Linked DNA regions of Homo sapiens: region 2 is reported to be linked to region 1. Evidence: microRNA targets listed by miRTarBase, many of them from high-throughput screens and not tested one by one. Region 1 holds a microRNA gene; the other region holds the end of a gene's coding sequence. Distances are between the middles of the regions.

Region 1 (10,140 bases):
AGAATATGTGGTGCATACACACACACACACACACACACACACACACACACACACACACATGCATGCACTAACGGACACACACATGCTCACACATACATGTTCACATACTCGTGTGCACTCACACACATACATGCTCTCACACACGCTTGCACTGACACATGCTCACACACGCACGTGTGCGCACTCATGCACACTCAGCTGCTCGCAGGTCTGCTCCCGCCCACCCCTAGCTCTTCAGCTCAAGTCAGGAGCCCACTGCTCCCTGCACCTGCATGTTTCATCCGCGTTTCTCCCTGGCCATGCCTCCCACACCCCATCTGGGCGCTGGCACCTAACACTACCCAACAAACACTTGTGGGAGGAAGGAGTGAGGGGTAGGCCTCTGGAGAGGGTGCGCCCACAGGGGATGGGCCCAGAAGGAGGGGGACCAGGGAGTCCCAGCTCACATGTTTCACAACAGGGTTTTGGATGGGCGTCTCAGGGCTGCTGTCAGGAGGTGGCCCCAAGCTCAGCATGGTGCTCACGCATCCCTCTACTTGGGCATGCAAGAAGTTGTTGAAGACATAATGGAAGAAGAGGTCCTATGGGAGGACACAGGATTGGTACCAGAGAGGCCCCGCCCCAGCCGAGCCCCCAACCCCTGAGCCCCCAGCCGAGCCCCCACCCCAGCCCCCGAACCCTCAGCCCAGTCCAGTCCCCGCCCCAGCCCCTGAACCCCCAGCCCGGTCCAGTCCCCGCACCAGCATGGTGTTGGGCACGTCCAGTGCCAGGAGCTCGTGCGTCAGGGCTGCATCATTGGCGCTCAGGGCACTGGCCAGGAGCTTGACCACGTGCAGCCGCGTGTTGCCCAGAGGCGGAGCCAGCATGCCCCATGTCATCTGTAGCGGCTCCAGCTGCAGACACAGGGAGGCCTGATTCCCAAGGGCTGCCCTTCCTGCTTCCCCCGCCTCCCCGAGGACCAGAACCCACACCCCTGACCTTGGGAGGCTCCAGCAGGAGCTGGTGGAAGCAGCTGAGCCGCGGGCGTAGGGCGTGCAAGGCGCCCACACTGGACACAGTGCTTTCCAGGGCCCCCTGGGCCAGGAGCTCCAGCTGCCCATCCACACTGCTGAAGAAGCTGTTCACGGTCACGGACTCGGACCTGCAGCAGGGCAGGGTCGAAGGCGGAGTGAGCCTAGATGGCCTGTGCGCCCACACAGGAGTAGGCACAAGGACCACGTCTGCAGGGTCTGGAGGAAAACGAGGAGCCACATGCCCCCAGCGCCGCTCTCTTCTGAGGCCCTTCAGACAACACCTGGCTGGGGTGGGGAGCCCGCCAGGCGGCAGCATTGGCAGTCCACTGTGAGAGCACGGGTGAGGGGTGGAGGCGGGAAGGCAAACCCAACAGGCTAGCGGCCTGTGTGGTAAGGCAGGGGCACGGGGGCCTGGGGTCCCTCCCAACACAAGCTGCAGCAGTGGCCTCAGCCTCAGTGCCCTCACTTGTCAAAGCAGACAAGAAGATTCCTCCCTCGGCCCCGTACTGTCCACTGTGCAGGGAGCACAGGCAGCCACAGAGCAAGGTGCCACGGGCGGGGATTTCTCTTGGTGGACACCGAGACCCGCCTCTGAGGGGCCGGAGAGCCCCTGGGGATGGGCAGCATGCATGGTCTGTGGCCCGTATCCCTCACCTCGGCCTCCTGGGCTCCAGCAGGGTCAGCAGCACCTGGATCCCACTGACGATGACAGACTGGCTCTGCTCCCCCTCGAACATGTTGCTTAAGAGCTGCTCAATCGTCTCCTGCCTGCGGGGGCAGGGGCAGGGGTCAGGGTGAGGGGCCAGGGGCCCAGGGCTTCCCCAAGTCAGCTCCCCCCAGCCTTAGCCTTGCCCGCACACCCACTTCTCCAGGGTGGCCAGCAGTTGGTCAGGCTCTGGGCTGTCCTGGACTTGGATCATCTGCTCCCGGCTCAGGCGGATGATGTCACACAGGGACTGGGATGCGTTGGAATGTTGCTGGAACGGGGAGAGACAGGTGAGGATCCTGGTCGGGCCACCGGGCCCTCTGCAGCCTGGTGCTGGGAGCCCCTCCCATGAGCTGACCATCCAGGGAAAAATGGTCACCCAGACACAGGGACACGTGTTACGAAGGAGGAGGGCACAGAGGCACCAACTGCTGGAGGGAAGATGGTGGAGAGAACAGGAAGCCCGGAAGGCTCCCCAGGACAGGAGGCATCCACACAAGGCCCTCATGACCGCATACAGGGCTGGCAGCACCGCCCACAATGACCCAGAAGGCTCTGACTGATGAGTGAATATGCCCAAGCTGGTCTATCCACACAGGAGAGTGCTAATCAGCCAGGAAAAGGAGTGAAACTGATACATGCAACCACATGAATGAGCCACAAAAACATCATGCTAGAGAAAGAAACCACACACAGATCACGTAGTACATGATTCCAATTATATGAAATGTCCAAAGACAAATCCACAGAGACAGAATAGTCTGGTGGTTGCCGGGGGCTAAGAAGAGAAAGGGGAAGATCAGGAGGAGCTGCTAATGAACACAGGGCATCTTTTTTATTTTTTCTGGAGAAAGGGTCTCGGCTGGGTGTGATGGCACATGCCTATAATCCCAGCAGTCTGAAAGGCCGAGGTGGGGCCGGGCGCGGTGGCTCACGCCTGTAATCCCAGCACTTTGGGAGGCCGAGGCAGGTGGATCACGAGGTCAGGAGTTTGAGACCAGCCTGGCCAACATGGTGAAACCCCATCTCTACTAAAAATAAAAAAATTAGCCAGGCGCAGTGGTAGGCGCCTGTAGTCCCAGCTACTCGGGAGGCTGAGGCAGGAGAATCGCTTGAACCTGGGAGGTGGAGGCTGCAGTGAGCCGAGATCGTGCCACTGCACTCTAGACAGAGCGAGACTCCATCTCAAAAAAAAAAAAAAAAAAAGAAAGGCCAAGGTGGCAGGATCACTTGAGCCCAGGAGTTTGAGACCAGTCGGGGCAACATAGCAAAACTCTATCTCTACAAATACAAAAAAATTAGCCAAGAATGGTGGTGTGCATCTCTAGTTCCAGCTGTTCATGAGGCAGAGGCAGGAGGATTGCTTGAGCCCAGGGGGGTCAAGGCTACAGTGAGGCAAGATCACGCCACTGCACTCCAGCCTGGGCAACAGAGCAAGACACTGTCTCAAAAAAAAGACACGGCCTCTACATCACCCCAGGCTTGAGCGCAGTGGTGCCATCACAGCTCACTGCAGCCCTGAACTCCTGGGCCCAAGAGATCCTCCCGTCTCAGACTCTTGAGTAGCTAGGATTACAGGTGTGCACCACCAATGCCAGCTAATTTTTCAATTTTTTGTAGCGACAACGTCTTGCTATGTTGCCCAGGCTAGTCTCAAACTCCTGGGCTCAAGCAATCCTCCAGCCTCACCTGCCAAAGCGCTGGGATTACAGGCAGGACTTGTTTTTTGGAGTGATAAAAAATAATCTAAATTCAACAAGATGATAAACGCTTTGAATACCCTAAAAGCGCTGAATCGTAAGCTTCGGTGGGTGAGTGGTATGCTGTGCAATTTACATCTCAGTAAAGCTGCTACAAAAGAGAGAAAAGAGAGAAGCATAAGCAGAGCTGAGTCTACCCAACGGGCAGCTGCCAGGGCTTGGCAGTGTGGCCCTGGGCCATGCCTCAGGGTCCTCACAGGGACAGGCCCCAGCCTGGGTGAGCCCAGAGCCATCTCTGCTCTGTAAGCCTGTGCGCCTCTGAGGCAGAAGTTGGCATTGGGAAGGACATGTTGCTCCCAGTGGCCTCGGATATCTGAGGCTCTTGACAAACACCCACTCTACACTAGGCCCTGTGCTGGGCACCAGGACAGAGATGGAGACCCAAGCTGGAGAAACACATGGACATGGGGTCCCCCAGAGCTAAAGGGGAGGATGTGAGGGCGCTTGAAAGCAAGGCTGCTGGACGGACACTTAGAAGGACAGCAAGGGGTTCAATCAGGCAGGAGACAGGGAAAAAGCTGCCAGGCCCAGCAATAGCACAGGCCAGGGTGGGCAGGGACGGATGTGGGGCCAGCGCTTGGACAGGCGATGAGGAGGGCCCCTCCCTGCAAGGCATTATGTGCCAAGTTCCTGGGTCATGAAAAAAACCTTTCCAGCACTTTCGGAGGCCACAGTGGGAGAATCACTTGAGTCAAGTTTCTTTCCTTTTCTCAAAGGGCATGGATACACCTGGTTCTCAATGCTCTCTTTTCTCACCAATTTCTTTTCTTTCTTTTTTTTTTTTTGAGACAGGGTCTCACTGTGTCACCCAGGCTGGAGTGCAGTGGTGTGATCATGACTCACTATAGCCTTGACCTCCCGGCTCAAGCAATCCTCCTACCTGAGCTTCCCAAGTAGCTGGGACTACAGGTGTGCAACACCACACTCAGCTAAGTTTTTACGTAGAGACGGGGTGTTACTATGTTGCCCAAGCTGGTCTCAAACTCATGGGCTCAAGTAATCCTCCCACCTCGCCCTCCCAAAGTGCTGGAATTACAGGCGTGAGCCACTGCGTCCAGCCCCAATTCCTCTTTTAAAAGTGGGGAAGTGGGCATGGGGAAGGAACTCTAAGGGGAATCCGCAGGGGCATCGGCAGCACTCACATTCTCATCCTTCGACGGGTGGATCTGCTCAATCAGCCGCTGGACGATCTTCTCCTCGTTGAGCCACTGAGGGTGAGAAGGCGAGGGATGCATCGCTGTCCACCACGCCCAGCCCCCCACCCCCAGAGGAGCCGGCCCTGCTCACATTGACAACATCCTGCCTCAGCTGAGGCCGCTCCACACAGGTGAGCAGGCGCAGCAGGAGGTCCATGATGGCCGAGGTGCCAATGTGCTGCAGCAGCAGGTCCACGAAGTCATCCTTCTTCCGAAGAAAGGACACGAGCTGGGGGCACACGGGCTGCGTCATGCACAGGGCCTGGCCCAGCCACCACCCCTCAACCCACGGTGGCGCCAGGGTGGGGGCCAGGGCACCTGGTCTGTCTTGCGGTTGATGAGGATGCCCATGACCTTGCTGAAGAAGCTGGCCAGCAGTGGGTTGAGGCTGCCGGTGCTCTGCAGGAAGCCGTAGAGCCGGTTCAGAAGGGACTCATCAGCACCCAGGGCATCATTGATCTGGGGCACATCTGAGGTCAGAATCTCGCAGGCCACACTGGGGTACCTGGGAGGCAAGCACAGGCGGGTGGGGGCTCGGGTCGGAGGCCGGGGGCAGGGGGCGGCAAGGCTCCACCCTCTTCTCTGCACCGGGCACTGGGTTTCTGGGAACTGCAGAGACCCCTGTCCAGGAAGGGGAAAGGGCAGAGGACAGGGTGACGCAGAAACAAGGGCCCACACCAGGCCTCCTCCACCCTGCTAACACCCAACCATCCCATCCTAGGCTCCTTACCACCCCCAAGACAAGCTGGTCCTGAAGCTCCTGCGCTTCCCAATCCCCCAGCAGCTAACACTCATCCCTTTTGCCTCTCAGCGGCTTCACTTGCAACCCCGTATGCTGCCCCAGCTCCGGCTGACTCCTGGAACCTTGCTCAACTTCCAACCTCACCTCCTGCCTCCCTCCTCCAAACTTTCACACGGTGCCTGACGGCTCCAAGACAAGAGCTGCCCCACCAGCGTGCCACTCAAGGCCCTGAGGGGCCACAGTCTGCTCCAGGACTGTGGGGAGGTACCCCTTGGGAGGCTGAGGCAGGCATATCACTTGAGGTCAGAAGTTCAAGACCAGCCTGGGCAACATGGCGAAACCCTGTCTCTACCAAAAATACAAAAATTAGCTGGGCGTGCTGGCTTATAGTCCCAGCTACTTAGGAGGGTGAGGCAGGAGAATCACTTGAACTTGGGAGGAGGAGGTTGCAGTGAGCCGATCATGCCTCTGCACTCCAACCTGGTGATAAAGTGAGTCTCAAAAAAAAAAAAAAAAGTGTCTTTTCAGCATCGCTTGGATTAAAAAATAAGTAAAGTGTCTTCAATAGCAGACAAGTGTTTCACAAACATACAAAAAAAGTTTAATAAAAAGTAAATAAAATAAAAGGCGGCGAATAAAGAGAAAAACCAGCCGGGCATGTCGTCACATGCCTGTGGTCCCAGCTACTCGGGCAACTGAGGCGGGAGGATCACCTGGGCCCGTGAATTTGTGGCTGCCGTGACCCGTGACTGTGCCACTGCCCTCCAGAGCACAGGCTTGGTCTGCACCCGGTGAGCTGTGAGGCCTTGTGCAGGAGCCTGGCTGCTCCCAGCCTCGTCTTCCTCATCCCCAAACTGGAGTTTACTGACACTGACGCATTTCAGGGTAGCTGTGAGGCTTGCGTAGTGAAGGTATGTGTGATGCTGATAGGGACGGGCTGGCCAGGAGCTGGGGAACTCACTTGTAGCGCAGCCGCTCCTCACCGCTATCTGGCGGCTCCTGGGTGACCCAGGCCACCATTGCTTGCAGGTGGGGTGGCTGCAGCAGGAAGTCCAGCAGCTTGCGGTTGACGACCTTGCACTCCTGCAGCACGTCTTCCTCGTCCAGCAGCTCGGGCAGGCTCAGGTCCTCCCGCTCCAGCAGCGTGTCCAGGTGCGAGCTTGTGTGCAGGTCAAACTTCCAAAACATGGCGCCCTGCAGGCATAGACACAACCAGCGCCGCGTCAGACGCCCCAGGGAGTCCCCACTGGACGAGGCACTGACCACAGGGGCTGAGTGCCCACCTTGGGCACAGCCTCTCCCCAAGTCCCAGCCCTCTGCCTCATGCTGAGCCCGGCCCCGCCCCGGGACTGCCCGCAGGCTCACTGCCTCCATCACTCAGGCTTAAGGCTCCCAGTGAGCACCAGGCTCCTGCAGTTGCCCTCGAGCCTGCCCCTCTTCCCCCATCTCCAGCCTCCCGGCCGCCTCGCCTGAGGTCCAGGGGGTCATTTCACACCTGAGGCCTCAGGCCTGGTGAAGTCCCCAGGTGTGGACCATGTGCAGGGCCTGCGAGAAGAGGCTGGACCCTGTGCACTGAGGGGCCTCGGGCCCTGTCTCCCCATGAGGGTCTGGGTCCACTATCCCTACTTTTGGGAGAGACACTGCAGAGGCAGGGCCTTAACCTCTGGCTTCAAATTTGCTTCAACCTGTATTTGCTCAACAAACTCAGATGCCCGATGACTTCCAGCACACGGCTGCTGCTTGGCCCAGCAAATCCCCCAAGGCTACGTGGGAGGCATGGGGCGGCGGCAGGGGGAAGAGAGGAAGTCTGTGCATCTCCAGGCTGTGGCCGTTGCCTGGACACCACTCACACACAAACACACCCCAACCATCCTCTCACCCAGCACCTGGGCTGGAACAAGGAAGAGGAAAAGTTGGAAGGGAGGGGCTCCCAGAATAGTCACTGACCAGGACCTGAAGGAACCCAGGGTGGGATAGACAGATTCTGTGGGGGAAGAACAAAGCTGGCAACACCCGGCCCTGACCCTGTCCCCATCTGGAGCTGGCTCCCGCCCTCTGGAGGACAGTGCCTGGTTCCTCAGCCTGGTTCCAGCCCCTAAACGCTCGTGCATGGGAACTCACTGGCAATAAGGAAACACACACAGAGTATTAACAAGATGCCAGGCAACTCCATTCTGAGCCCCTGCCCTGTACTACATCACTGCTCCGCAGAGCCCTAGAAAGCCTCCACACAGACCTTCCACTACAGACCTGACCTGTGACCTGTGCTCTGGGCACTTGATGACAATGGTCCTGGCTCTGCATGTGTGCTGTGCACATGATGTCCAAGCTCACCAGCAGCCCCCAAGAAAGCTGTCATCACTCCGCCACACAGGACAAGGGGCAACCAAAGCCCGGTAAGTCAGGCGGCATCCTGGAATCTCGAAGGCCATCTGGTCCCAGCAGACAGCCTTCACGGAGCTCTCACCAGTTAAGACACTGACCAGAGCTCACGCTCATTACCTGCCTCCTGACAACCGCATCACCAGCTAAGGCAGAGGCCACTGCTACCCCCAAGTCACTACAGAGGATGCTGAGAACAGAGCAGAGCCGGCACAAGAGGCCAAGGGTGCCTCTCCCGCAGGCCCTCACCACCATCACTCCCAGGCACAGATGCTAGTCCCTCTCCTCCAATGCCCTTCTGCAGCTTCTTCCAGTTCAGTCATTCCCTCTGCACAGGCCTCCACCATCTCCTCGAGCCCTGCTGACCTGTCACCTCAGTGCCCACCAGCCCCCAGGCCTGACTCAGCCCCAGGCCCCAGGGAAGAGACAGGGAGACGTGGAGCACCAGGCCCAGGGAAGAGACTTCATCGGAGCTTAGGAGAGCAGCCTGGGCTGACAAAACGCAGGACAGAGTCCCACACATGGCCTCAGGCAGGTCGAACGCCTCTTGGGCCTCCTTTCCTCTCCTTCCTGGCTAGCTTGAAGCCAGGCCAGCCTGGGGCCAGGATCTCCTTGCTCATCCACCCTGACCACCCTAAGGCTGGGCTCAGCACAGAAGGTTGCAGTCCAGACCTTGCTCCCAGTCTGCCCGTCTGCCTCGGTAACTCTAGATTGGCAACAATCTTGATATAACACTATATGGGTCCCTACACCTGGCCAATGACAGTTGAGGGTGGAGCAGAGGGAAGAGTTCCGTGACCAACGACAGTCATGGCGGCAGCAGGAGGACTAGGGGAGATAGCAGCAGCCTCCAGGCATTTGAACCCCTGCTCCTCTGGGGGGCCTGCCAGGTCCCAGTCCACAGCACCCAGTGACTCACCACTTACCCCTCACCAGTCCACTTTTCCCAATAATCCTTTGTTTTTGAGGAGTCTCACTCTGTTGCCCAGGCTGGAATGCAGTGGCACAATCTAGGTTCACCTCAACCTTCACCTCCCGGGTTCAGGCGATTCTTCCGCCTCAACCTCCCTAGTAGCTGGTACTACAAGCATCTGCCACCACACCCGGCTAATTTTTCTATTTTGGTAGAGATGGGATTTCACCACGTTAGCCAGGCTGGCCTTGAACTCCTAACCTCAGGTGATCCGCCCACCTGGGCCTCTCAAAGTGTTGGGATTACAGGCATGAGCCACCATGCCCAGACTCCCAATATTCCTTCTAAGGTTGGGTGTGGTGGCTCACGCCTATAATCCCAGCACTTTGGGAGGCCCAGGCAGGCAGATCACCCGGGGTCAGGAGTTTGACACCAGTCTGGCCAACATGATGAAACCCCGTGTCTACTAAAAATACAAAAATTAGCCGGGCATGGTGGTGTGTGCCTATAGTCCCAGCTACTCGGGAGGCTGAGGCAGGAGAACTGCCTGAACCCGGGAGCGGAGGTTGCAGTGAGTCGAGATTGCGCCACTGCACTCCAGCCTGGGTGGCAGAGCAACACTCTGTCTCGGAAAAAAAAAAAAATCCTTTTAAAGCACAAACATGAGTACCCGCACCTGCTCGGTGATGTGCACTCCACCAAGCCTGCATCCAGGCTCTCGTGCCCCTGCCCAGCCAGCTCACTGACTGACCTCCATGCCCACGGTGACCCCAGTGCCCTGGGGAGGCCGTGCCCCATGCCACCTCGCCAGTGCTCCTGGGGCTGCCACTTCAGGTGTCTCCTGCACAGCCCGTGGCTGCCTGAGGCACAGTGCTGGATGGATATCCAGGAGGCCCTGCGGGTCTGGGTGGATGGGGGCATTCCAGGCAATGATGTCGATGGTATCAGCCACTGCGCTCCAGCACCTGCACTGCGCTGACTACTCTGAAAAGGACTTCACAGCCATCACCTCCACCAACTCTCACAACCACCCTCCAGGGAATGGCCTTATTTTACAGGAGAGGAAACTGAGGCACACCAAAGTAAATGCCTATGCCCCGATCCAGGGGTTGGCGGGCAGTGAAGCTGGCACTCTCAGCTTTCAGAAGTTGTATTTTCAGGGTGCAGAGCCCTTGTCCCAGCACAGGGCCTGTGTAGTGGACACTTAAGGGATGAATGAGCGAGTTCCCGCTGAGCCGGCTCCAGCACTTGCTCTGCCTGAGGGACTAGCCCTGGCCACAGTGACCCCGACTCTCACCTCAGGGAGGAGCCTGCCATTTCCAGGCCCACCCTGAAGGGACCTGTCTGGATGGTAAACTCCCTGTCCACCTTGTCCCCAGCTGCTAGTGCTTACTCAACAGACATCCCTGGATTCAGGATGGAGGGCTG
Region 2 (10,140 bases), 55 Mb from region 1:
GCGCACTTTCAGCCGGCACGTGGTGCAGAGGCAGCGGGTCAGTGGCCAGGTGCAGGCGCTGCAGAACCACTACAGGAAGTACCTCTGCTTGCTGGCCTCCGACGCCGAGGTGAGGCTCGCACCCCCTCTCCTCCTGGCTGGGGCCAGTGGTGGGTGGGCGCTCTCCCTCCCTGGAGCAGCCGGGTTTGCACCCAAGCTTCAGTCTGTTCATCTGTATGCTTGGGCTGACAGATGCCCCACCGGGCGTCAGGCACGGGCGGTGGGGCATCTAGCTCAGGGGCCCCGGTGCCCAGCGCCCTGACCGCCCTGTCCTACAGGTGCCCGAGCCCTGCCTGCCGCGGCAGTACTGGGAGGAGCTGGGGGCGCCCGAGGCCCTGCGGGAGCAGCCCTGGCCCCTGCCAGTGCAGATGGAGCTGGGCAAGCTGCTGGCGGAGATGCTGGTGCAGGCTACGCAGATGCCATGCAGCCTGGACAAGCCGCATCGTTCCTCTCGGCTTGTCCCCGTGCTCTACCACGTGTATTCCTTCCGCAACGTCCAGCAGGTGCCAGGCAGTGCCCTCCTGAGCTGGGGGGCATCCCGCTGGGAGGACCAGGGACCCCATGGGGTTGGCGCCTTTGGGCGGAGCCTTGATCTCAGCGCAGCCGTCAGTACCTCCCAGGACTCGGGACACACCATGGGTGTCCATGCAGGTGTCCGGCCGTTTCTGGAGGTGGCTTCTGTTCGTGGGAGGCCACACTGGTTTCTTGTTGGCCGGGGAGCCGGCCCCTCTCACCCAAGTTTAAGGGGTGGGAACAGGAAAGCCCCAGCACCGGGGCCCTGACCCGTCTGCCTGTCGCACCCCAGATCGGCATCCTGAAGCCGCACCCGGCCTACGTGCAGCTGCTGGAGAAGGCCGCGGAGCCCACGCTGACCTTCGAGGCGGTGGATGTACCCATGCTTTGCCCCCCGCTGCCCTGGACATCGCCGCACTCTGGTGCTTTCCTGCTCAGCCCCACCAAGCTGATGCGCACGGTGGAAGGCGCCACGCAGCACCAGGAGCTGCTGGAAACCTGCCCGCCCACCGCGCTGCATGGCGCACTGGACGCCCTCACCCAACTGGGCAACTGCGCCTGGCGCGTCAACGGGCGCGTGCTGGACCTGGTGCTGCAGCTCTTCCAGGCCAAGGGCTGCCCCCAGCTAGGCGTGCCGGCCCCGCCCTCCGAGGCGCCCCAGCCGCCCGAGGCCCACCTGCCGCACAGCGCCGCGCCCGCCCGCAAGGCCGAGCTGCGCCGTGAGCTGGCGCACTGCCAGAAGGTGGCCCGGGAGATGCACAGCCTGCGGGCGGAGGCGCTGTACCGCCTCTCGCTGGCGCAGCACCTGCGGGACCGCGTCTTCTGGCTGCCGCACAACATGGACTTCCGCGGCCGCACCTACCCCTGCCCGCCGCACTTCAACCACCTGGGCAGCGACGTGGCGCGGGCCCTGCTGGAGTTCGCCCAGGGCCGCCCGCTCGGCCCGCACGGCCTGGATTGGCTCAAGATCCACCTGGTCAATCTCACGGGGTTGAAGAAGCGGGAGCCGCTGCGGAAGCGCCTGGCCTTTGCGGAGGAGGTGATGGATGACATCCTGGACTCCGCGGACCAACCCTTGACGGTAGGGGCGGGGCCCCCGCATTCCCCGCCCTCCCGGCACCCCCGCGCCCTCCCCCGGCGCCCCCGCGCCCTCCCCCGGCGCCCCCGCGCCCCCTGCCCGTCTTCCTCCTCCCCTCCCCCTCCCCTGGCGCCCCCTGCCCGTCTTCCTCCTCCCCTCCCCCTCCCCTGGCGCCCCCACGTCCCCCGCCCGCTCTCCTCCCCCGCGCCCCCTGCCCGTCCTGCTTCTCCCTTCTCCCCTGCCCCAGGGCCCCCGCGTTCCCCACGTTCCCCCCTCCCCTGCATCCGCCGAGCTGCTTCCTCCCCCGGCGCCCCCAGGTCCTCTGTCCACCCTCCTCCCCCGGCAGCTCCGGACACGCTTGTTTCAGCCCGGTCCACCCGCAGCTCCCATCCTCCATCCGTGGCTATGGAGAACTCATCCAGCCACCGCCCCGTCTCTCGCCCACATGCGTCCCGTGTTCACTATCACGGGTGTGCGTCTCCTCCCCATTTCCCACCTCCCCGCAACACAGCCTCCCAGCGGGCTCAGGGATCGGGCCCGGGCCTCACTGCCCCCCATCCGCTGTCCCCGCAGGGCCGAAAGTGGTGGATGGGCGCGGAGGAACCCTGGCAGACGCTGGCCTGCTGTATGGAGGTGGCGAACGCTGTGCGCGCCTCCGACCCTGCCGCCTATGTCTCCCACCTCCCCGTCCATCAGGTGAGCCAGCTGGGTCTGGCCCCCGAGGCCGTGCAGTGTGCACTGGGCCTGGGGCTCGACTTGAGGGTGTGAGATTTCACCTTCGCTCGTGGTATTCTCTGGAGGTGGTCCTAGAGTGTGCGGGAGCCATGGCTCCTGGTCTCTCCCGGGAGCGTGCGGGGGCTCCGGTGCACTTGGCTGGGGGGTGCACGGCCCTAGGAACGGCTCGACCTGGGGGGTGGTTTGGGGTCCCACACGTCTCTGCCTCTCTAGCTTCCATCTCCCGTTTGCCGCCCCTTCCTCAGGACGGCTCTTGCAACGGCCTGCAGCATTATGCTGCTCTGGGCCGCGACAGCGTGGGCGCCGCCTCCGTCAACCTGGAGCCCTCGGATGTGCCGCAGGACGTGTACAGCGGCGTGGCCGCGCAGGTAGGGTGTGCCCTGCTGCCCGGGGGCATCTCGGCGTGGGGGCAATGTGAGCCCTGAGTCTCGGCCCCAGGTGCCCTCACCTTGGCCTGTCCTGAGGATGTGGTGGGGCTGGGGCGGGGGCTTCATGGGTGCTTGGTGGCCCCTGGGCTGCTAGCGGGGCTGACCCGCGCCCCCGGCCCACCCGCCGTGCAGGTGGAGGTGTTCCGTAGGCAGGACGCCCAGCGGGGCATGCGGGTGGCACAGGTGCTGGAAGGTTTCATCACCCGCAAGGTGGTGAAGCAGACGGTGATGACGGTGGTGTACGGGGTCACGCGCTATGGCGGGCGCCTGCAGATTGAGAAGCGCCTCCGGGAGCTGAGCGACTTTCCCCAGGTGCGCCAGGCATGTCGCGCTGCGAACACGTTGGTTTCACTGCCATTTAAAACTCAGACGGGTGTGCCCCCGACCCAGCCTCCCAGCAGGAGCCCTGGCTGCTCCCCCAGACCACTGGCTGCCTGTTAGGGCTTGGGCGTTTCTTGCTGACTGCGTGGGCGCCAGGCCCCATTCCCCTGCCCCCCTGCTAGGCCCTAGGCCTTGGGCCTCAGTGGCTCTGAAATAGGGGGGAGTAGGGCGTGAACGGGCCAGCCCCTGAGGACCTGCACCTGCTGCCCGCCCTCTGCAGGAGTTCGTGTGGGAGGCCTCTCACTATCTCGTACGCCAGGTCTTCAAGAGTCTACAGGAGATGTTCTCGGGGACCCGGGCCATCCAGGTACGTCCTGTCCTGTCCCCGCTCGGCCAGGACTCCCTAAGCAAGTGGACGGGATCCCCGGCCTGAGCCCCCTGCCCTGAGACGGCCTGTGTCCCACAGCACTGGCTGACCGAGAGTGCCCGCCTCATCTCCCACATGGGCTCTGTGGTGGAGTGGGTCACACCCCTGGGCGTCCCCGTCATCCAGCCCTATCGCCTGGACTCCAAGGTCAAGGTCAGTGTACCACCCCATCCCTCCCCAGTGTGCCACCATCCCAGTGTAACAGCGTCCCAGTGTACCAGTGCCCCAGCGTACCACCACCCCAGTGTACCACCGCCCCAGTGTGCCACCCCATCCCGCGCCAGTGTGCCACCATCCTAGCGTGCCACTACCCCAGTGTACCACCACCTCAATGTACCACCACCGTGCTGGGCCTCGGGTGGGACTCACCGGCCCCTTCCCCTTTTTAGCAAATAGGAGGTGGAATTCAGAGCATCACCTACACCCACAACGGAGACATCAGCCGGTGAGTGGGGGGCCCGGGCTGGGGCCTGGCCGGGGGTCTGGAGAGCAGCCACGGTGGAGACAGCGGCCAGTTAGGGGTGTCCCTGGGCCGCCCCCACCGGCACCTGTTCCGTCCTCAGAAAGCCCAACACACGTAAGCAGAAGAACGGCTTCCCGCCCAACTTCATCCACTCGCTGGACTCCTCCCACATGATGCTCACCGCCCTGCACTGCTACAGGTGGGCGTCTCCGGACGGCGTGGGTGCCGCTCGCCTCCCAGGGGCGTCTTCTGGCTAGCAGGGCACAGCTGGCAAGGCTGGGTCTAGCTGGGGGCAGGGACTGGGCAGAGTGGATCTGCTGTGTCTGTGGGGCCTGTGTAGAGGCCCTGAGGCTGTGTGCCCCGAATGTAGGTGGTCCTGGCAGCTCCCCTCCTGTGGCCCGACAGGGAGAGCCGAGCATGGGCGCTGCCCCTTCCTGCTGGGCATTTCTTGGCACCGCGATGTGTGGTTAGATCTGGAGCACGTGGAGGTCGTTCCAGCAGAATCTACCGGCCACGGGAGCTGGGAATGCTCAGGATGCGGGGTGGTGGCCCTGGCAGGAGGGGACCTCGTAGCCGCCCTCGGAGCTGAGGCTCCCACAGCAGCGTGGGGGGCGGCAGGGGTGGGGCGAGGAGGCTTCTGGGAACATTTCCTCCCCCTGTACTGATACCTAACCCAGGATGTTTGGGGAGGGGCGGGGCGAGGGGTGGGGCGAGGCCTGCAGGAGGGTGGGCTTCCCTGGACCTCAAGTGGAGGGGGCTGAGCGCAGGGCCAGGATGCTGGTCACTGGGTGGCCCTGTGAGCTCCCCTCCCTTCAGGAGTCCTCCGCTCTGCCACAGGAAGGGCCTGACCTTCGTCTCTGTGCACGACTGTTACTGGACTCACGCAGCTGATGTCTCCGTCATGAACCAGGTGCCCCCGTAGTCTGAGCCTCAGTCCACCCATGGGTGGGGCCCCCACACTGGGGCGTTGGGTAGGGGTGGTGCCCAGAGCCTGCCTGATCACCCCTGGGGATCCTCTGACTCCTGCCCAGGTGTGCCGGGAGCAGTTTGTCCGCTTGCACAGCGAGCCCATCCTGCAGGACCTGTCCAGATTCCTGGTCAAGCGGTTCTGCTCTGAGTAAGGCGCTCCCTGACCCCAACTACCTGGATTCCCCCCCCACCCCAAAACCTGGCCTCAGCCTCACCCCACCCTGCTTCCAACCCCAGGCCCCAGAAGATCTTGGAGGCCAGCCAGCTGAAGGAGACACTGCAGGCGGTGCCCAAGCCAGGTAGGCGGGTGGGCAGCCTCGCAAGGGTGGCTCGAACTGCGGGCCAGGGCGGGGCTTTCCCGCCACCCACGCCGTCCGCTCTGCTTCCTCCGCAGGGGCCTTCGACCTGGAGCAGGTGAAGCGTTCCACCTACTTCTTCAGCTGACACCCCGTGAGCCTTGTCAGTGTGTAAATAAAGCTCTTTTGCCACCCCCAGGAGCCACTGTCTTCAGGAAGGGTGCACGCCCTGCGGGTCTCGGGCAATCACACGCGGCCAGGCTTGGCGCCAATGCTGTCGTTTATTGCGCGGAATGGGGGTGTGGGGGTTAATGGGGCGTGGGGGGCCACGGTGGGGGCACTGCTGCCTCGGCTCGTCAGTACATTCATCACGGCGGCGGGACCCCAGCCTCCCCCCCGCGCCCTGCGCAGCCAGGCCTGCCTCTCGGTGCCAGTGCTGGAGGGAGGCGGGGTGCTGCTCCCCGAGGTCACCGGGGGACGCGCGCGGACGGGGGCCGGGCCGGTTATTGCGTGAGCGCGATGGGGGCAGCGGGAAGCCGGCGGGCCAAGTATTGCACTTAGAAAACGATCCTCCTCGGACGGGGGCCACCTAGAGGGTGGGGGGCGGGCGGGGCTCCACAGCCGGCTCCTCTCAGCCACTGGGCCGCCCCGTCCCTGTCTTACAGCTGGGGGAACTGAGGCACCGAGGTGAAGGGAGCCCCCTCGCACGCGAGGCCGCCGCCGGGGGCAGGGGCGATGGGGGTGGGCGCGGGGCGATGAGGGGGGACGGCCGGGGGCGCGGAGGGGGCTGCCCCGCCGGCCCTGCCCGTCCGTCCAACTACGGCTACCTACGTCTCGTCTATGGCTTCTGGGCGGACTGGCGGCCGGGGCAGCGCAATGGCATGGCTTTGGTCTGGATGACGGCCCCGCCCCCGGCCCGCCTGGGCCCGCGGGGCGGTCGGCGAGGGTCACAAGTTGGACGAGAGGCGCGAGCGCGCGGAGTCCTGGGGGTCCAGGCCGCCGGCGGCGCCGGGTGAGGCCGAGTCCCTGCGGTCCGGGCTGGGCGCGGCGGCCCGGGCAGCGGGCGTGGGCCCCAAGCGCGGTGTGGAGCTGCTGGCCGGGCGTGTGGAGGCCGCGGGGCCGGGGGCGCCGTGAGGCAGCGAGGGCTGCGAGGCGGACAGTGGGCGCGACGCGCGGCTCAGGCGGCGCGCGGGCAGGGCGGGCCCAGCAAGGGGGGCGGCGGGCAGGCCGCCGTAGGGCGAGGTCCGCGGTGCCCGGGGGCTGGCGGGCGCGCCCGGGGGGCTGGCGGGGGGCGGGGGCCCGGGTGAGGCGGCGGCAGGTGCGGGCCCCGGGGGCGGGCGGCGCACGAGGCGCGGCGAGCCGAGCGCCAGCGGCCCCACGAGCGGCCGCGCCACCTGCGGGCAGAAGCTCATGGCCGCCGCCTGCTGCAGCGTGGCGATGGCCGAGGTGACCTGCGGCGGCGGCGGCGGCGGCGGGAAGAGGCCCACGCGCTGACCCAGCTCGGCCTGCTGCACCATCTCGCGGTCGTACTTGACGATCTCCTGGATGATGGCGTTCTCCTGGTTGTTGAATACGCCCGAGTTGAGGTCATGCTGCACCTTGTGCAGGAGGATGGAATTCTTCTTGCCTGCGGGAGAGGGGGCGTTAGCGTGTGCACAGGGAGCGCCTGCTGCGTACAGCGGGCACCGAGCACCTACTCTGCACCGCGGGTGCGCACACAGTGCTTGCCGTGTAGAGCAAGCATGCATTTACCACCTACTGTATACAATAAGCACATATGTAGCATCTCTGGCCTATAGTATGGATATTGAGTACCTGCCATATACAGGCTGAGCACCTGCTATGCACAGCCAGCATGCATGAAGCACCTGCATACAGAAAGCAGGGCTTTTGTTTTGCTTTGTTTCTGAGACGGAGTCTTGCTCTGTCGCCCGGGCTGGAGTGCAGTGGCGCGATCTCGGCCCACTGCAAGGTCCACCTCCCGGGTTCACACCATTCTCCTGCCTCATCCTCCCGAGTAGCTGGGACTACAGGCGCCCGCCACCACACCCGGCTAATTTTTTGTATTTTTTTTTTAGTAGAGACGGGGTTTCACCATGTTAGCCAGGATGGTCTCAATCTCCTGACCTCGTGATCCACCCACCTTGGCCTCCGAAAGTGCTGGGACTACAGGCGTGAGCCACCGCGCCTGGCAGTAAACAGGTATTTAATGCCTGCTGTGTACATGGAGCAGGTATCACTGTGCACCAAGTATGCATGTGTACCACCTGTATACGCTGATTATGTAATGACTGCCTCCAGTGTGCCACAGGCATACCGAAAACACCTGCCTGTACACAGCCTGTGCTGAGCACCTGCTGTATACAGAAGTTATAACCTAAGCACCTGATACTCAGGAACGGGTTGCATACTCACTGTATAGAGCAAGTTGTGGAGAGCTTCCTACTGTACACCAGGGAGCTCCCTGACACCACTCCGTCGCACCTGTCCTGCGTTTCAGCCATGGTCTTCATTCCCATTCCCACGAACAGCAGCATGAGCCGCCATCTCTCTGGCGCCTACATCCAGTCATCAGGGCTCTGCCCCTCCCTGCCCCAGAGACTGCCCCCCTGAGAGGCCAGGTCACCGTCTCCCTCCTGGACACGGCCCGCCTTGGCGGATACAATCTGACCAGGTCCTCCGCCCACCTAGAACCCTCCATGGCTCCCTGATGCTCCTGATTTAGTCTAAACTCTCCCTGCCGCCCACTGGGCCCTGTGTGTCTGGCCTCCCCTTCTTCCCCAACCTCCTCCAGGCCTCCCTGGCTCTCTGGACTCTAGGCCTCTTTTCCACCTCAGGGCCTTGGGATGTGCTGTGTCCACTCCACGAACACATCTTCCTCCCCGTTTCCACATGGCATCCCTTACCCTGGTCTCCACTCTGCATTCCCAACTCAGGGAAGCCCACCGGCCCCACCTGCCCTGCTGGCACACAGCCCAGTCGTGTGTGATTTCATCACCAGTCCATAAGCCTCCCTGGGAGTCTGAGTGGGCCCCCGGGTCTGTCCCCTGCACCCCCAGCACACAGCAGGTGCTCACCGAGCATTCGGCACAACCGCAAACACCCTGTGCATTCCCTCCCTTGGGAAACAGGCTGCCTCTGGCTGAAGTAGGACAATAGGTCAGAAAATCAGCCTCTAGACCCAAAGGGGTCCTAGGAGCGGCCAGCCGCTGCCCCTGCCCCAGCCACGCCCCTGCTGCCATGGCCACACTCCTGATGCCTTGGCCACGTCTCTGCCCCAACCGTGCCCCTGATGCCACAGCCACGCCCTTCCCCCTGCCACTGTCCAAGCCACTCTCCTGATGCCTTGGCCACGCCCCTCCCCCGCCAGGGCACCCGCCCCGGCCACGCCCCCGGCCCGCTCACCGATGCGGTCCAGGCGGTCGATGGCCACCGTCTCGAAGGCGCGCCGCATCATGGGGTACTCCTCCAGCACCTCGTTGAAGTTGTCCACGCTCAGCGAATAGAGGCGGCAGTAGGTGTCAGCCCGCACGCTCGCCGTGCGGCGGCCCCGGGTGAGCAGGCAGATCTCTGCACGTGGCGCGCAGGGGGGGGTTGCTGGACGAGGCGGGCGCCGCGGCCCTCCCCGCCCAGGCACACGGCCCGGCCTCTGCACCTTGGCCAGCGTGGGCGCTTCCCACCCAGGCTCTCCCTGGTGCCGGCCCCGGCCCCATCCCCGGCCCCATCCCCGGCCCCATCCCCGGCCCCATCCCCATCCCCGGCCCCATCCCCATCCCCATCCCCGGCCCCATCCCCATCCCCATCCCCATCCCCGGCCCCATCCCCATCCCCATCCCCATCCCCGGCCCCGGCCCCGGCCCCGGCCCCCTGGCTCTGCACACCGCGGGGGTCGCGTGCCCCCTCCCCCTCCAGGCGCGCCCCCCTCAAGCTCACCCCCGAAGTAGGAGCCATCGGACAGCTTCATCTCCTTGTTGCCCTTAGTGAGCACGCTGACCACGCCGTGCTGGATGAAGTACATCTTCTTCCCGATGGTGCCTTCGCGGATGATGTAGTCACCCGGCTGGAAGACCTCGAACTTGAGCTTGGTCAGCATGGCCGTGACGAAGTTGGGGTCGGCGTTGGCGAACAGCGGCATGGAGGCCACCAGCTTCCGGCAGTTGAAGTTGACGATCTCCTGCAGGGGGGAGGCAGGGCTGGGTCCGCTGCGGACCCCACTCCCGCTTCCCCCTCGCCCTGCCTCTGGGACCGGCTCACCTCTCGGACCCCAGTTTCCTCGTCTGAGAGACGGGCTCAGCCCCGTAGCCGGAACCGAGCTGCTGCCGCCAAGGACGGGAGAAAGAAAAAACGCTCAGTGCCCCTTCGCCGTTTGACACCGTATTGGCGACATCTGCCAATACAATCGGACCAGGAGGGGCGGCTGTAGACAAGAGCGGTGGAAAGGAGGCCGGGTGCGGGGGCTCACGCGTGTGATCTCAGCATTTGCGGAGGCCGAGGCGGGAGGATCGCTTGAGCCCAGGAGTTCTAGACCAGCCTGGGCAACACGGTAAGACCCCCGTCTCTACCGGAAAAAAAAAAAACAGCCAGGCGTGGTGGTGCAGGAAGTCGAGGCTGCAGTGAGCCGTGATCCCCACACCACTGCCCTCCAGCCTGAGCGCAGAACAAGACCCTGACTCAAAAAAAAAAAAAAAGAAAATGGGGGAAAAATAAGGCCGGGCGTGGTGGCTCACACCTGTAATCCCAGCACTCTGGGAGGCCAAGGTGGGTGGATCGCCTGATGTCAGGAGTTCGAGACCAGCCTGGCCAACATGGTGAAACCCCATCTCTACTAAAAATACAAAAAATTAGCTGGGTGTGGTGGCGGGTGCCTGTAA

Evidence for each region. Region 1 holds the annotated microRNA hsa-miR-6803-3p (UCCCUCGCCUUCUCACCCUCAG, at 4,688-4,709, opposite strand). A microRNA usually pairs through its seed, bases 2 to 8, with sites in the 3' UTR of a target mRNA and lowers its output. Matches are read on the target gene's strand: a 7mer-m8 pairs with bases 2 to 8, a 7mer-A1 pairs with bases 2 to 7 and ends in A, and an 8mer does both.
Region 2: miRTarBase lists HCN2 as a target of hsa-miR-6803-3p. Seed matches in the 3' UTR shown: 7mer-m8 at 5,969-5,975.

The regions. Positions count from the first base shown.
Region 1 is chr19:55,240,499-55,250,638 of GRCh38, forward strand. MIR6803 (microRNA 6803) reads right to left here and starts at 4,752; the gene lies at 4,688-4,752. PPP6R1 (protein phosphatase 6 regulatory subunit 1) reads right to left here. Exons shown (of 24, transcript NM_014931.4): 2 at 6,379-6,611; 3 at 4,994-5,180; 4 at 4,767-4,904; 5 at 4,622-4,687; 6 at 1,878-1,990; 7 at 1,668-1,781; 8 at 979-1,141; 9 at 741-893; 10 at 447-581. The coding sequence starts at 6,605.
Region 2 is chr19:612,551-622,690 of GRCh38, reverse strand. It overlaps HCN2 (hyperpolarization activated cyclic nucleotide gated potassium and sodium channel 2), which reads right to left. Exons shown (of 8, transcript NM_001194.4): 6 at 9,203-9,443; 7 at 8,675-8,839; 8 at 5,532-6,896. The coding sequence ends at 6,217. It overlaps POLRMT (RNA polymerase mitochondrial), which reads left to right. Exons shown (of 21, transcript NM_005035.4): 8 at 1-109; 9 at 318-542; 10 at 845-1,633; 11 at 2,204-2,326; 12 at 2,611-2,733; 13 at 2,926-3,105; 14 at 3,395-3,481; 15 at 3,581-3,694; 16 at 3,931-3,986; 17 at 4,105-4,203; 18 at 4,842-4,914; 19 at 5,036-5,121; 20 at 5,211-5,272; 21 at 5,368-5,470. The coding sequence ends at 5,417. LOC107987266 (a long non-coding RNA gene) reads left to right here and starts at 9,218. Exons shown (of 2, transcript XR_001753828.2): 1 at 9,218-9,812. RefSeq lists a silencer at 9,171-9,352.